Regions from separate parts of the Homo sapiens genome. Here region 1 is linked to region 2. The links come from fine-mapping of genetic effects on gene expression. A gene starts in region 2. The other region holds a variant in brackets. All regions are shown on one strand. Distances are from middle to middle. Region 1 overlaps ATF6 (activating transcription factor 6). Region 2 holds the start of ATF6 (activating transcription factor 6).

Region 1 (8,338 bases), 180 kb before region 2:
CTGTCTCTATGAAAAATACAAAAATTAGCTGGGCATGATGGTTTGTGTCTGTAGTCCCAGCTACTCAGGAGGCTAACACCTGAGCTTGGGAGGTTGAGGCTGCAGAAAGCTGAGATCTAGCCACCGCACTACAGCCTGGGTGACAGACTGACACCCTGTCTCAAAACAAAAGAAAACAAAACAAAACAAAAACAGACTCTGTAGGTCTGAAGTCAGGTACTCAGTAGCATCTTACGTAAGTACTTAAGCAGGAGACATAGAAATGTGCTCATCAAAGCAGGTGGCCAAGGGCTGAATGTCCCAGGGTGGTATCAGGGCAGGGACTGTTCAGATGAGATGTCTAACCAAATTCCCAATTATTTGTGATTCATTGAGCCAGCATGCGTGAAATGCTTATATAACATAGCTTCTATCTTTAAGCAGTTTACAATCAAGTTGGTAGGTAAAATACATATGGAAGAAAAATACTAGTAACAGTTCACAAGACCAGATATGAAAAATTACAGGAAAATATGACAGTATGCCTATATCTAACACAAATTAACAAACAGTAAACTTGTTATTAGGATCCCATTTGTAGTTTTGTTGAAAAAGATAAGTATACTATCTCCCAGTGAAAAGTCATTCAAGAATAAACGCAGTAAGGATGGGATGGTGTTTTGGAAACTGCAAGACTTATCTGTGAAGTCCAAACATACTGGACTGGCATAGTGACAACAGTGATGATTATGGTAAATTAAGGAAACTTCTGTCCAAACAAAGAAATTAATAGAACTGCCTTTAACCCAAGTGCAGATATATAAAAGTGCTCAAGGGTAAGGAGAAATAAAGAGATTAATTCCTACTGGAGCAAATGGGAATGGAATAAGAAGGTGACTGAGGGCATTGGTGTTTTGTTTCATTTTGTTTTCAAATAAATGCTTTGGTTTAAATTACTGATAGGATCCAACTTCTGTAATTAACGTGCCATTCTTACTTTTGCAGACTTGTTCTATCTTGCTATCATTTGCAGGTTCACTTTATCATAAGCCATGTGCAGCATATAATAGAAATGAGAATTATAAACCTTACTCAAGTTGTGTATTTAAGAGCTGGTATGTGTAAAGGAGCTTAGGACGGTGCCTCCTGTTCCTAAGGATATGGACACCACCTCAAAATAACTGTATTTTACTCTCTACAGAGGGAATTTTTAATGAAGAAATGAACCAGGATGAGATACAATGCCAAACACTGCATTTAACCTTCTTTGCCAAAACTTGTATAGAGCTGGATAACCAATGGCCTGACTTATTGGTGCACTTCTTTTAGGTCTGATTACCATGTGCAGATTTAATTCAGAGTGACAAAGAATGCCAGGCCATGTTGTACAAACACTTGCTTTCCTGACCCCCAGACACCATTATTGCATATTTAGTTCCCTGGCCTTAAGTCGTCCTGCCTTCTGGTTTCTTTGCCCATTGGATAACTCTGAGGAGGCAGTGGTGAGAGCTTCCTTGCAGCAGAGGCTGCATGAGATTAGAAGACACATGAGATCCTTGACATGCTTGCTGATCCTGCAATACAACACAGTGAGATGACAAGCCTACATTTTGCACAAATGTAGGGGAAAGAATCAAACAGACGGTAATGATGATAAAAGGAGAGTTACAGAAATACCCATGTGTAGTTTATCTACAGAACAAACTGCATACCTTGTATGCATAGAACTGAACAAATTACAAAGAAAACCAGGCATTTCATTCATCCATGAGATGGATTCAAGATTAGAGCTGTGAAGAGCTCTGAACTGACATGGTCCCTTCATTGTGGACATTAAGAATCTCAGGCCCAGAAACACCTGGGTTTATTTTAAGTTCTGTAACTTATTCTCATTATTCCTGCTGCTTGGAGACAGTCCAAGGGAAGGACTGCTCTTCATCCTCTATGATATAGTAACTGATGAAAAATTATTTTAAAAGTGCAAATTACACCAAACTACTTTATTTGGCTGAGTTTTATTTCAGAACTTAACTTACAACTTTTTCGGATTCTGGCCTAACTGAGCACCAAACTGCATGTGGATCAGAAGACCAGTCTTGGTTTTAGCTTTGATGCTGCTATACCATATCATTTTGGGGAAACTCACTTAGCTTCTTTGACTTTCTATTTTCTAATCTGTTTTCATTCATCAAATATTTATTGAGTGCCTGCTATGTGCCCAGTATGTTACAGGTGCTGGAGTGGAGAAGTGAACAACAAAACAGATGAAAGCCCTACCCTCACAGCATTCACATTCTAGTGAGCAGATGGTAAGCGAGAGAAGTAAGTAAATACACAGTATGTTTGAAAATGATAAAGACTAAGGATAAAACTAAAGCATGGAAGGTGGATATGACATGTTAGGGGCTAGACTGGAATTTTGCAAAGAGTGGTCTGGCAAGTCCTGACCAGCAAGATGGCTTTTTGTGTGCGTGTGAAAAGGTGATTTTTTGTTCGAGACCTGGCAGAACTGGGGGAGCTAGTCAAGCAGGTGTCTGGGGAGAGGGCATTACATATAGAGGGAAGAGCAGGTATAGAGGCCCTGAGGCAGGAGCGTGCCCTGAGTATCTGAGGAATAGTAAGGTGACCAGTGTGACTGAAGCAGAGAGAATCAAGGGAAGAGTAGGAGGCGATGAGGCTGGAGAGGAAACCAGCGGACCACTCTCCTTACAGGTTGTATTAGTCCGTTCTCACACTGCTATGAAGAAATACCTGAGACTGGGTAATTTATAAAGGAAAGAGGTTTAATTGACTCACAGTTCCACATTGCTGGGGAGGCCTCAGGAAACTTACAATCATGGCAGAAGGCAAAGTGGAAGCAGGCACCCTTTTCACAAGGGGGCAGGACTGAGTTAGTACAAGCAGGGGAAATGCCAGATGCTTATAAAACCATCAGATCTCGTGAGACTCACTATCATGAGAACCGCATGGGGGAAACAGCCCCCATGATCGAATTACCTCCACCTGGTCTCAATCTTGACATGTGGGAATTATAATTCAAGATGAGGTTTTGGGGCTGGGTGTGGTAGCTCATGCCTGTAATTCCCACATTTTGGGAGGCCGAGGTGGGCGGATCACGAGGTCAGGAAATCATGACCAGCATGGCCAACATGGTGAAACCACGTCTCTACTAAAAATACAAAAATTAGCCGGGTGTCACGGCGCATGCCTGTAATCCCAGCTACTTGGGAGGCTGAGGCAGGATAATCACTTGAACCCTGGAGGCGGAGGTTG[C/T]AGTGAACCAAGATTGCGCCACTGCACTCCAGCCTGGGTGACAGAGTGAGGCTCTGTCTCAAAACAAACAAACAAACAAACAAAAAAAGATGAGGCTGTGGGTGAGGACATAGCCAAACCATATCACAGGTCACACAGATTTGGGCCTTGATTCTAGACAGATGTGACATGATTGGAAGGTCGGAGTAGTAGCATCATGAACTGACTTAAATTTTAATAAGATCACATTGATTAGTGACTTGCTTATTTCAAAGTGTGTGATAATCACTGATATTTCCAAAGTTCTTAAGGATTAAATATGATGATGTTTGTGGAGGACTTTCAGGATGTCAAGTGATATGAAATGGGAGTAATTGTTATTGTGTGGAGTCAGTGTGTGTGGCACAGTGGAGAGACATCAGGCTTTGGAATCACAGACTTCATCTATAACATGGGGATATTAATACCTAACCCATAGGGTGGTTGCAAGAGTTAATAATGTCAAGTACTGTACCTATCACATGCAACACACACCTCTGAATACAGCAACAACTGAAAGGTGTCACTGCATTCTGGAGCACAGGAAAAGAGCCCTAGGAATCAGCCATCCTGGGGTCTAGCCCTTACCTTCCACTGCCTCACAGTCTTATGGAGACGAAATAAACTGCATTCTTCATAGTTTGCTCATTTTCTTCATCTCCCCAATGGATGGGGGTTAACAATGATTGCTGTTTTCCTGTGATGGTATGAGGGCTGAGGAGTTAATGCTTCTAACACCACTGTATGAAACGAGATACTGCAGAGTGTTTCTACTGTTAATACAAGTGTGATTAAGACTTACATTAAGGAGGCAGTGAAAGAACCCAGAGAAAGCTGTTGTATTGGAAACAATGTGGCTTTATTTTGAAAACATTACCCAGAGTCTTTTCAGTTCTATGACTTAGTGCAAAAAACAAACAAACAAAACCCCCCCACCCCGCCGAAAAAAAGAAGATAAGAGGAAGAGGAGTAGGACGTGACTTCGAAGAAGACAAAGAAGACAGTGGATGAGAATGATGACAAGCTCGTAGCGGCAGATCTCTATCACACAGTGGAAACAGTTCCAAAGGGGAAAATTTGGCAAGGACTAAACTTTCTTTAAGTCATCATTTAGTGCTAAGAAAGCACTAAAAACTTGTCAAGTTTCTCATCCCTTTTTCATTTTTAAGACAAGTTATCCTAATCTGCTTCTTATAACATAGTACTTCTCACCGGAATCCTTGACATCTCTTCTTTCTGGGCTTCTTAATAAAAACCTTGGGGCTTTTCCTGACTAAAAACAACTAGAATCGCCATGTAGTTTATATGGGTTACCATTCATCTCTAAGGGAGCGGAGCCCGGCTAAAGGCTGAAAACTGGGTTGGTTTATGACAGCAAATACAGGCCATAAACTTTTTAAAGAGAACCTACCTTTCTTGGGATTTTTTAAAAAGCAAGATTTTAAAGCAGTGAAGGCAAGTCTAAGTCCACACAACTTCTCCCACAGACCAACAGTGACTTGTTACTTTTAAACTACTGACTCATCTAGTCAGAATACCTTCAAACACACAAAGCTACCTAGACTATAGCTGGGCCTCACAAACCCCAGACAACTGTAAAGTTCAGTCAACAACCATGTTTTTGCACTATCAGGCATTATGTAATCCTAACAGAGCAATGAATATGCTCAATTTAACCTTTATTTTTTAAGCAGGGCCTAAAATACCCACTTTAATATATAGCCCAGCAGATTCAGTTGATAGGGTACAATAAACAAGGGCTTTTCTCAGATATGTAAGGCAGAGGTGATGCTCTCCCAATGGGAGTTTGTTCCCATGATCAATATGATTCAATTACATAAATATTTACTTAGCAGCTATTATGTGTTGGGCACTGAGAGATGAGTAAGCCCTTGCCCCTGACCAAGGCACTTGCATCTAGGAAAAGAGGCAGCTATGTAAACTGGTATCATCCAGGATAGGTGTGATACGGGTATGCATATGGTACAACAAGAATAAAGAGGAAGGTGCCTACCTAGCCTGGGGAGGTGGAGAGATGACAAAGAACATTTTCTGGCCAGGCACGGTGGCTCACGCCTGTAATCCCAGCACTTTGGGAGGCCGAGGTGGGCGGATCACAAGGTCAAGAGATCGAGGCCATCCTGGCCAACATGGTGAAACCCTGTCTCTACTAAAAAAAAACAAAAAAAATTAGCTGGGTGTGGTGGCACATGCCTGTAGTCCCAGCTACTCAGGAGGCTGAGGCAGAAGAATCGCTTGAACCCGGGAGGCGGAGGTTGCAGTGAGCCAAGATTGTGCCACTGCACTTCAGCCTGGGCAACAGAGCAAGACTCTGTCTCAAAAAAAAAAAAAAAAAGATCTGAAGGAGGTGACACTTGAGACTAAGGGATTCTTCAGCCAGGTCTGAGGTGGGGGAAATTCTACAGAGGGATAAGCATTAGTAAATACATCAAGTCATGAGGTGTGTTGTGCTAGGTAGTACTGAAATACAAAATATAAGTGGAAAATGGGAAAATGAGGCCAGAGAGATAGAAAGAGTTGGTTCACACAGGGTTTAGAATTTATCCCAAAGGCAATAAGGAGACAGAGGAAGGTTTTAAGGAAGTAAGAAACAGGATGGGGATATGTATTTTATTAAAATAAGTCATTGGTGGTAATGTGGAAGATAGATCTGATGAGAAGTGGTTGGATTTGGAGTCCATTTTGAAGGTAAAGTTAATAGGATTGGCAGATGGATCAAAAGTGGATGAAAGAGAAGGCAAGGAATCAAGACTGTTCTAAGTTTCTGGCATGAGCACCTGGGAGACCTAAGATGGGTAGGAGTTTGGGGAGAAAAGTGAAGAGTTCAATTTTGAACAGGCAGGTGTTCGAGAATGTTAGGGAGGCAGCTGAGGAAAGAGTCCTGAACTCAGGAAATAGCTACAAATCTGGGAGACATTAGCTCATAGATAGTATTTAAAGCCATGTGCAGCAGAAACTGCTCCCTGTCCTCCAAAATCCATCACGCTCTTTTTCCTCTAGTAAAAGAACTGCTCCATTTTAGCTGGAAGCCATAGCTACCTACCTAAAGACTATATTTCCTAAATTCTCTTCAGCAAGTTATCATCATGTGACTCAGTTCTGGCCAATGAAATGAGAGCAGATGAAACATGTTTAACTTCTGAGTCCTAAAGGGAAGGGATACGTTCTCACTTCCTATCTTCTTCTTCCTGCTGGTTAGAATACTGACAGGATGCAGGGGCTGAAGCAGCCATCTGGGACCAGAAGATGGAGACAGCATGTTGAGAACAGCAGAGTGCAGGAAAGAAAGAGCGTGGGTCTCCAGTACTAACAAGCTATCCTATCAGTCTTGGACAAGCTCCCACACTTTTATAGGAAAAAGAAATCAACTTTCATCTTGTTTAGGCACCTTCATTCTGGGGCCTCTGTCATAGTAGCCTATATTGTAATTTATATACCATGTGATTGAATAAGATCACCTAATATAAATGACGAGTTAATGGGTGCAGCAAACCAACATGGCACATGTATACATATGTAACAAACCTGCACGTTGTGCACATGTACCCTAGAACTTAAAATACATATATAAAAAAAGATCACCTAGGCCAAAGACTAGAGGGTCTAGGCCTTGGGATATTTCAATGTATAGGGTTTGGGAGAAGAGAAAGAGTCAAATGAGACTGAGAACTAGCATCTAATGAAATAAGATGAAAAACAAAACCAGACAGGAGGTCTCAGTGAAATCACGTAAATAAAGTGTTCCAAGGTGATGTCAAATGTTGCTGGGAATAAGATGAGGATGGAGAAGATAATATGGTAGCATGACGGTGATGGAAACTTTGATAAGTAGTTTCAGTGGAGCGACGAGATGAAAGCCTATTTGGAGTGGGTTATAGAGAGAACAGCAGGAGAGAAGGAGGAAACAGCAAGTATAGATGAGTCTTTTAAGGAGTTCTGCTAAAGAGGATCACAGAAAAGTGAGCTGGTGACTGGAGGGGAAACTAAAATTTAGGGAATTTTTTAAAAGTGAGCACTATTATTATCAAACCCACTGCAATGAAAAGTTTTACTAAAAAGCAAGAGATCTGAAATACAGTATGAAGAAGTTACATTTTTATAAAGGAGTAATTCTCTCTTTAAAAAGATAATAGAAACTCACCTTCTTAAAGGAATGGCAGCTTTCCTCATAATAAGCTGTTGAACTTGAGACCTTTAAGGTTAGTATCACAACCTATTGCTATACTACAAATGGAAATAGCAGTGGTTTATGGAACTCATTTGGAAATCAGTGCCTACAACTTAAAAAAAATAATTGTTACAGTGTGATGACTTTCTTCTACTAACTTCTTGCCTGCCTTACATTTCTGGCACCAATGGGTAAAATCTTTGGTGAACTTTTCTCATCTGAAAAATATGACCATTTCCTTGAAATCTTTACACTCTTATGTTTCTCTGATATTCAAAGGGCTATCTCAGATACTGTGAAAATCACTATCATTTAATAGGAAAGGAGATGGGGCAGGACTCTAACTCTTCACACACAATACTCCATTTATAGGCAATTATTTCTTTAGATGTAATTCTAACATATTCAGTTATGTGAGTCCAAAACGCAAATCTATACTTGACACTAGCCAAAAGAGCCCTATAATTTCTATTAGTAGCACAGTCTCATATAATACCTTAAACAAAAATGAGAGCAGAAGGAAGATTCATAGTGCATGGGATGAAGAAAGTGCACTCCAGACAGGCGAACAGTAGATGCAAAGGCCCTAAGGTGGGAGTATGCCTGGCATGTTCAGGGGACAGCAAAGAGGACTCTGTGCATGCAGAGGAGGAAGCAAGGGTAGAAGGCTAGAAAATGAGGTCAGAAAAGCAAATGTGTTTGTGTACATGTGTGGGAAGGGGAGGCAGAACCATGTAGAGTTGTGCAGGCAATTGTCAGGGCTTTAGCTTTGACTCTGAGTGAGATGGAAAGCTACTGGTAAGTTCTGAACAGAGGAGTGGCGTGATTTTTTTTTTTATTATCTTTTCAGTTCTGGGATACATGTGCAGAACGTGCAGG
Region 2 (8,338 bases):
ATTATGTTGAGTTATATAATTATTTCATTATATATTACAGTGTAATAACAATACAAATAAAGTGCACAATAAATGTAATGCACTTGAATCATCCTGAAAACATTTCCTGTGCCTCCCTGTCCCCACCTCCTGTGGAAAAATTGTCTTTCATGAAACCAGTCCCTGGTGCCAAAAGGCTGGGGATCCCTGCCATAGAATGTACAACAGAGTGAACTTTAAATGATGGGCTTAGTTAATAATAATGTATCAATACTGGCTCATCAATTGTAACCAATGTACCACACTAATGCAAGATGTTACCAATAGGAGAAGCTGGGGATGAAGGGGAAGTATGTGGACTCTTTGTACTATCTGCTCAATTATTGTGTAAATCTATAATTATACTAAAAAAGTAGGCTTATTATTTAAAATAATTATGTGAAATTCAAATTTCAGTGTCTATAAAGCTTTATAGAAACACAGCCATGCTCACTTGTTTATGCTGTCTCTGGCTGCTCCTGCACTATCACAGCAGACTTGAGTAGTTGCAACAGTGACCATGTAATCACAAAGCCTAAAATATTTACTATCTGAACCTTTACAGAAAATGTTTGAAGACTCTTGCTCTAAATTTCATTACCTAAGTTAAAAAGAAAAAGGAAAGCACATCCCTCACAGGCTGTTCTGAGTTAATCACTTTATTTAAATTATTTAGAGTTGTTAAAATCACAGGACATACTAATTACATAATCTGATTTTTAAATTTTAACTAGATAGTGTCTAATATTAAAAAAAAATCAAGGCTAGACACAGTGGCTTGAGCCTGTAATCCCATCACCTGGGAGGTTGAGGCAGGATGACTGAGGCCAGTTGGAGACCAGTCTGGGCAACACAGCAAGACCCCTGTCTCTACAAAAAATTCAAAAATTAAAAATTAACCAGGCATGGTAGCGGTGTGCACCTGTAGTCCTAGCGACTCAGGAGGCTCAGATGGAAGGATCACTTGAGCCCAGGAGTTCCAGGTCACAGTGAACTATGATTGCATCACCGCACTCCAGCCTGGGCGACAGAGCAAGACCCTGTCTCTAAAAGAAACAACAACAACAACAACAAAATCAAGTAAATCAGTGAAGTACTTGAACATCCAAAACAGCAACTGTCACAGAACGAAACACTATCAGACAGTAGTGTTTCACTCTATTGCCAACAAAATCTATCCTACTTACTGAACACCTAAGGAATTAAATTAAAGTCTTCAAAGAAGAGAAGACTGTTAACAGTTTGAAAAGGGAAACCTGGAAAACAATGGAAATGGGCACATTCAGGGAGGGACAGGGCAGGATACCCGATAGAAGTGAGTCGGTGAACTGACTACAAAGAACTGAATGCTCTGTTAGAGAACATTAAGTCAAGTGATCAGATAAGTCTGGAAAATGCAGCCTGGGTATCAGAAGACGACATAAAATTATGCTACCAGGAAGTGTCCCACAGTTATACTTTAAGAAATGTCACTGGCCGGGCACAGTGGCTCACACCCGTAATCCCAGCACTTTGGGAGGCCGAGGTGGGCGGATCACCTGAGGTCCAGAGCTCCAGACCAGCCTAACCAACATGGAGAAACCTCGTCTCTACTAAAAATACAAAATTAGCCGGGCGTGGTGGTGCATGCCTGTAATCCCAGCTACTCGGGAGGCTGAGGCAGGAGAATCGCTCAAACCCGAGTGGCGGAGGTTGCGGTGAGCCAAGATTGCGCCATTACACTCTAGCCTGGGCAACAAAAGCGAAACTCCATCTCAAAAAAAGAGGTAAAGAAAAGAAATGTCATGAAAATATAATAGCTGACTAGCTGACAAAATAAATCATAACTACCCAATATATTCAAGTAGTCTTATTAATAACCAGGGATCTTAGGAAGAATAAAATCTGTAGACATGAGTTAGGAAAGCATTATAGAATAGATGCTAGGGGTACAGACTTTGGAGGTAGAAAAACCTGGTCTGATCCTTCTTCTGCCACTAACTAGCTCTAAGAATCTGAGCACAAATTCTGTTAGCCTCAGTTTCCTCATCTCTAAAATAAACAGTACCTCATTGGACTGTTGGTAGGATTAAACAAAATACTTCATGTCAAGAGTTTAACAGGGTCCCTGACACAAAGAGCTAAATAAATGGTTACTGTCACTAATGCATTTGGCTTGGGAAAATGGGAATAAAAAATCTTAAGTTTTCCAGCAACTCTTAAAAAATCTACCCAAGGATTAAAATAAATCTCCAATAGAATATAGTTTTAGAGAACATCTGTCCTTGAAACAATTAAATGACTTTGTTCAATAAAAAGTTGAGATTCCTTCCACTCCTGCTATTGAGAATGCTGATCCAAGGGAGAAAGATAAACTGGGTTCCCCCCAGTTCCAAGGCTGATGAGTGGTGTAGGCTCACTAGCGGGCCCATTTGGGAACCTACACAATCCCAAATTCATATTGGAACCTAAGAACAATATTACTATTATATCTTGCAATCAAGAGGAGAATAAAAGTCTCCTCTAAATACTTAGATAACAAAGTTTCTTCATTCTCATTTCCACTTCATCCCATTCCACCCTTCCTGACCACCAAAACCAAACAAAATATCCATTAACAAGAAAATTAAGAGCTGTATCTGGAGAGCAGTCAGGATTACACCATAAGTATTAGGTGTAGCTAAGCAGGGACCCGAGGTCAGGTGCTTGGGTGTTTTGCTTTTCTGCCAAGACGGACATCAGGCTTAAACCAATAGTAAAAGCTGTAAGATTAGAATTTCTTGTATATAACCACATTCTCTCATATACACCAAACACACAAAAACCCACTCCATTGTGCTCACCGCCCACATTTCACACTCAGGAAATAGCTTGTAGCCTTTTTGGCGGTCCCAGCCATTTTGCTCTAAACCTCCTAAAGACGTCCAGTGTTAGCCACACAAAAAGATCACCCGGTACTTCCCCAGTGGGAATAGTGAAAAACGACAGTTAACTCCAGTTAGACAATATTCTACTCTCCCTGTGGCCAGGACAGAAGCCGAACGATACTCCCAGACTCTTCCAGGGGCACGAACAGGAGTGACGAGGGGCCTCACTCCCCAGGCAGGGTTGGTCCACACCTGTCACCACGAGTGGGCGGAAGTAGGGAGGAAGAAACCTTTAGACGCGAACCCGAGCCACCCTGGTACATTCTCAGATCCCACTCACCCCAATCTTCATCCAGCCTGTGAAAGAGTCCCGGGCTAAAAGGTGACTCCATGGTGCCGGCAACCCCAGCCGGCTCCCCCATTTCACAAGTTCCTTCTCCCTGGAACTCCGTGATTAATATCTGGGACGGCGGCGGCAGGCGGACAAAATACTCCGTAACGCTGACGAGACGGTGGCCTAGTAAAGACAAACTACTTTTGCCGCACGAGGGATTTGTACGACACAGGAAAACGTCAGAGACTAAGCAAATTTGAATAGACCTCTGAGTAAATATTTCCCTTTTGGAGTTTTCAGGACTTTCTGTCCCGCTGTTTTATGGGGAAGGCGGGGGAAGACACGCAGACATCAATTCGACTAAACAAAGTTTATCAATAATATTAAAAATAAAAAGTAAAGCCCCTTTCTGAACATTATGGCTTATTCCTTGATTATCCTTCTTAATGCCACAGCGTGGCTATCTCAGAACAAAATTAGAGACTAACAGTAAATTTACTTTAATTTTTACGAATAATTCTCTATCAATGTAAAAATTTTTCATATACGCGTGTATGAAAGAAAAACACTACTATTTTTCCACATTCGTGAAAACTGCTTAACTGGGACAGTAACCGAGGTAAGTGGTACTATAAAACATACTTCTAGAAAGACTACTTTTATTTAAATAAATTGAAACAAAGCAAATATAAAAAGATAAACCCCCCAAATTTATCTCCTAAAGATAAATTTCTAAAGCATAGTATTTAGTCAAAGTCCAAGCGAGTCTACCCTAAGACCTACAGTAATCGAAGTTCCCAATATTTGTATTACTAAAGATTCGGGTTTTATTTAAAGGAAAATCACATACATCACGAACTCCAACTGAAAATATGAACTGAGTTTGATAAAGCAGTTTCAAGAACGCTACTTAAGAGAATTTCTTTTTCATCCATTTTAAATTTCAGCGGCCAGTGAATATTTAAAATACTGTAACCGACGAATACGTATGCTTCTAGGACCACGTGGAATCTTTCCCATGGTAGGTAAGCAAAACAAATGTGCTTCCCAGAACCCTCCAAACTGCTCGTGGGTATATTACTACAGATTACATAATGCAGCAGCGTTCCGGGACGCAAGCCCAGAAAAAGATAATTAAATCCCCTTACGTCAGATGTAACTACTTTTGTCATTAGAAAACTAATAAATTTTCACTTAAGGTGAAATTTATAACACTTTAATTCTCACCCAATTACAAATTCAAAAATTGACATAAAAAACTAAAATAAGGCCGGGCGCGGTGGCTCACGCCTGTAATCCCAGCACTTTGGGAGGCCGAGGCGGGCGGATCACGAGGTCAGGAGTTCGAGACCAGCCTGGCCAACATAGTGAAACCCTGTCTCCACTAAAAATACAAAAAGTTAGCCAGGCGTGGTGGCGGGCAAGTAGCTGTAATCCCAGCTACTCGGGAGGCTGAGGCAGGAGAATCGCATGAACGCGGGAGGCAGAGGTTGCAGCGAGCGGAGATCGCACCACTGCACACCAGCCTGGTCGACATTGCGAGACTGCGTCTCAAAAAAAAAAAAAAAAAAAAAACCTAAAATAAAATAAAATCATCGAGTCTTCTGTATCCCACTAGACACCTTAGTCTTTTAAGAAAATCACCATGACAAATCGCCAATTTTTTTAATTTCCAAAAGATTTTATTTTTATTCAAAAAGTGCAAGTAATTATGAAACAAACATTTGTGACCTATCACCAAGAATTTAAAAATTTAACATTTTTCATTTTTGTCCCAGATTTTTCATAAGAAATTAAATACTACAGAATTGAATTCCTCTTTCCTCCCTGCTTCATTTTCCTCCCTTGGCGTAGGCCACTTCTACCATGAATTTTATGGGTATAAAATTTTATTTTATAAAAATAAAAGTGTAATTCTAGTCCACTTTTATTTTTAGTTTTACGGTGCTTAAACATGTTTATAGACACATGCATTTAGTGTCATTTGGGTTTTTTTAATGTATGTAAACTTTAATGTTCTCCAAATCATTTTTCTTATTGGATATTAAGGATCTACCCATGGTATTTCCTTGAATGAATCTCAATTTCTCTCTCTCTCTCCCTCTTTTTTTTTTTTTTTTTTTTTTTGAGACAGGGGCTCACTTTGTCCCCTAGGCTGGATTGCAGTGGAGCCATCTCAGCTCACTGCAGCTTGACCTCCCAGGTTTAAGCGATCCTCATGCCTCTCCCCACAATAGCTGAGACTACGGGAACCCACCACCACACCCGACTAATTTTTGTATTTTTTGTAGAGACAGGATTTCACCATGTTGCCCAGGCTGGTCTCAAAACTTCTGAATTCAAGCAGTCCGCCCGCCTCTGCCTCCCAAACTGTTGAGATTACAGGCGTGAGCCACCGCACCCAGCCTCAAGAATGTCTTAAATAATGTATGTACTATTTTATCAGTTTACACCCTCACTAGCATTGATGAGTTCTCTTTGTTCCACATTCTCTCCAACACAAGATATGGTCAGACTCTTACCATTTTTACCGCTGTGAAAATTGCAATTTACATTTCCCTAACAAAGTGGTGCATTCTTCCATACTTATGAAACCTTATTTCCTCTTCTGTGAACTGTCCACTCTTACCTTTTATAAAGTTTGCTATGGAGTTTTCTTTCACAAATGATGTGTACGTCATTAGATAGCCTGCTCTATTCATTCACCTGTATAAAGTAAAACTAAACTCCTAAGTCCGCCACCAACAGAATAGGCCCCCTTGTGGCCAAGGGGATCCTAGAAAACCTTAAAACTGAGTTCTAGACCACGATGGGACAGGTTAGACACACCTTGTTATACTCCCTCCCTTTTGTAGTTTAACACAACAACTGGCCAGCATTAATGTTAAAACAGAGATGATAAGACTGACAGAACAGACTCTGGCAATAAGATGCCAAATTATAAAAAAGACCTAAAGCCATTCCAGGCAAGGTTTTAGTCCCACACCCCTATACTTAAAGAATAAACTGTGTTCTAACTGCCACAAGATTCTTCTCTAGCAGCTAAACAAGTACTGGCCTAAAGATAAACAATATTAAAATAATGTGCAGCTCCACGAGATGCTGACTTACTGACCCCCAGTCCCCGTTCCACCAGCCATAGCTACAGCTTTCATTGGACAACTTTTTGTTGATTTCAGTAACTTTCTCCAGGTAAGAAGACCACTGGCCATGGACTGGTTCTGGCTGGTCTACAGAGGTCGCACATTTGCATGGCTTCATGTCCTGAAAGACCTTTTGACGTATAGGGCTCGTAATACATTTAAATGTTAAGTCTTGGCTGGGTGTGGTGGCTCACGCCTGTAATCCCAGCACTTTGGGAGGCCCAGGTGGGAAGATCACGAGGTCAGGAGCTTGAGACCAGCCTGGCCAACATGGGGAAACCCCATCTCTACTAAAAATACGAAAATTAGCCAGGCGTGGGGGCAGGTTCCTGTAATCCCAGCTACTCAGGAGGCTGAGGCAGGAGTATCGCTTGAAACCGGGAAGTGGAGGTTACAGTGAGCTGAGATCACATCGTTGCAGTCCAGCCTGGGTGACAGAGCAAGACTCCGTCTGAACAACAACAACAAAAAAGTTAAGTCTCCATCCCAAAGTGAATATGGGTCATATGTTACATGAGTTTTTGTTCAATACGCATGTGTCAGGACCACTTTCATGAATATTCATAGCTCTTCCTGTAACCTGGTGAAAATGTAGGTTTAGCCAACCTGTTCAGCCTGAACTACACTCCAAGCCCTCCTCCTTCAAAGCGCCTGTTTCTGGAGGCACGCTTCCCAGCCTGCAGGATGGCCACCTTGCAGGCCATAAAGTCTCCCCTTCTTTTCTAAATTTATTCATTGTGGGGCTTTTTAATATATACATTTTTAAAAGAGAGAGAGAGACAGAGTCTCGCTTTGTTGCCCGGGCTGGTCTCAAACTCCTAGGCTCAAGCTATCCTTCTGCCTCAGCCTCCCAAAGTGCTGGGATTACAGGCATGAGCCACCGCACCCAGCCCATTGTTGGGCTTTTTTAAGTTAACGCTTGGTATATGTTATAAATACCTTCTCCCAGGTTGACACTTGTCGTCTTTGTTTACGGTGATTTGTTCTCTAGATTTTAATTTCAATGTAGTCAAATTTATCAATCTGTTGTTATGATAGCTGACTTGTAGCTTTCTTAAGAAATCCTTCCCTCTCCTGAGGTCACTAAGATTTTCATTTTCATTTTCATAGTTTTATAGTTTTGTTTTTCACATCTTTTTTTTTCTATTTGGCTATTATTGGGGTATAGCAACACTGTGGATTTTTGTACAGCAATCTTGTACCAAAAACCTTGTTGAATTCTGTTATTCTAGTATTTTGTCTGTGCCAGGAACAGTGGTACACACCTGTAATCCCAGCTTCTTGAGAGGCTGAGGCAGGAGGATTGCTTGAACCCAGGTGTTCAAGGCTAGCCTGGGCAATATAGCAAGATTCTGTCTCTAAAAAAAAAAATCATATTATGGTAGATGGAAACTAGTATGTGATAAAATAAAAATGACTTTAAAAAAATTTGTCTAAAGTTCTTTAGGATTTTTTATTTAGCAGAACATTATGCAAACACCAACCTTTTAAATTCTATTTTATTTAATGTTTTAATTTGTAAAATAAACTTAGTATGAAAATTTTCAAACAAATACAAGAGATGATATAATAAATCCCTGTGTTCCTATCATCCAGCTTCAGCTTAAACAATTTGCCATTCTTGTTTTATCTATCCTACCTCTCCTCTCCACAACTTTTTTCATTTTGTTCTGTGTTTTTCCCAGAATTTTTTTTTTTTTTTGAGACGGAGTCTCTCTCTGTCACCCAGGCTGGAGTGCAATGGCGTGAGCTCGGCTCACTGCAACTTCTGCCTCCCACAATCAAGCGATTCTCCTGCCTCAGCCTCCCAAGTAGCTGGAATTACAGGTGCCTGCCACCATGCCCAGCTAATTTTTGTATTTTTAGTAGAGATAGGGTTTCACCAAGCTGGCCAGGCTAGTCTTGAACTCCTGACCTAAGGTGATCCACCTGCCTCGGCCTCCCAAAGTGCTGGGATTACAGGCGTGAGCCACCTTGCCCAGCCTTCCTGGAGTATT

The links.
Region 1: its variant is fine-mapped to the expression of ATF6 in whole blood (TOPMed, PIP above 0.99).

Annotation. Positions count from the first base shown.
Region 1 is chr1:161,937,848-161,946,185 of GRCh38, reverse strand. All of the region lies in intron 15 of ATF6 (activating transcription factor 6), which reads right to left. Among named protein-coding and RNA genes, the nearest start is that of OLFML2B, 82 kb to the left of the region's middle. The variant C/T (reference allele first, on the strand shown) is at 3,253.
Region 2 is chr1:161,761,309-161,769,646 of GRCh38, reverse strand. It overlaps ATF6 (activating transcription factor 6), which reads right to left and starts at 3,327. Exons shown (of 16, transcript NM_007348.4): 1 at 3,205-3,327. The coding sequence starts at 3,286. ATF6-DT (ATF6 divergent transcript) reads left to right here and starts at 3,500. Exons shown (of 3, transcript NR_187280.1): 1 at 3,500-3,817; 2 at 4,146-4,223; 3 at 5,490-5,864. LOC124904444 (a long non-coding RNA gene) reads right to left here and starts at 3,198. Exons shown (of 2, transcript XR_007066695.1): 1 at 2,841-3,198; 2 at 1-619. RefSeq lists enhancers at 3,320-3,399, 3,430-3,509, 5,049-5,218.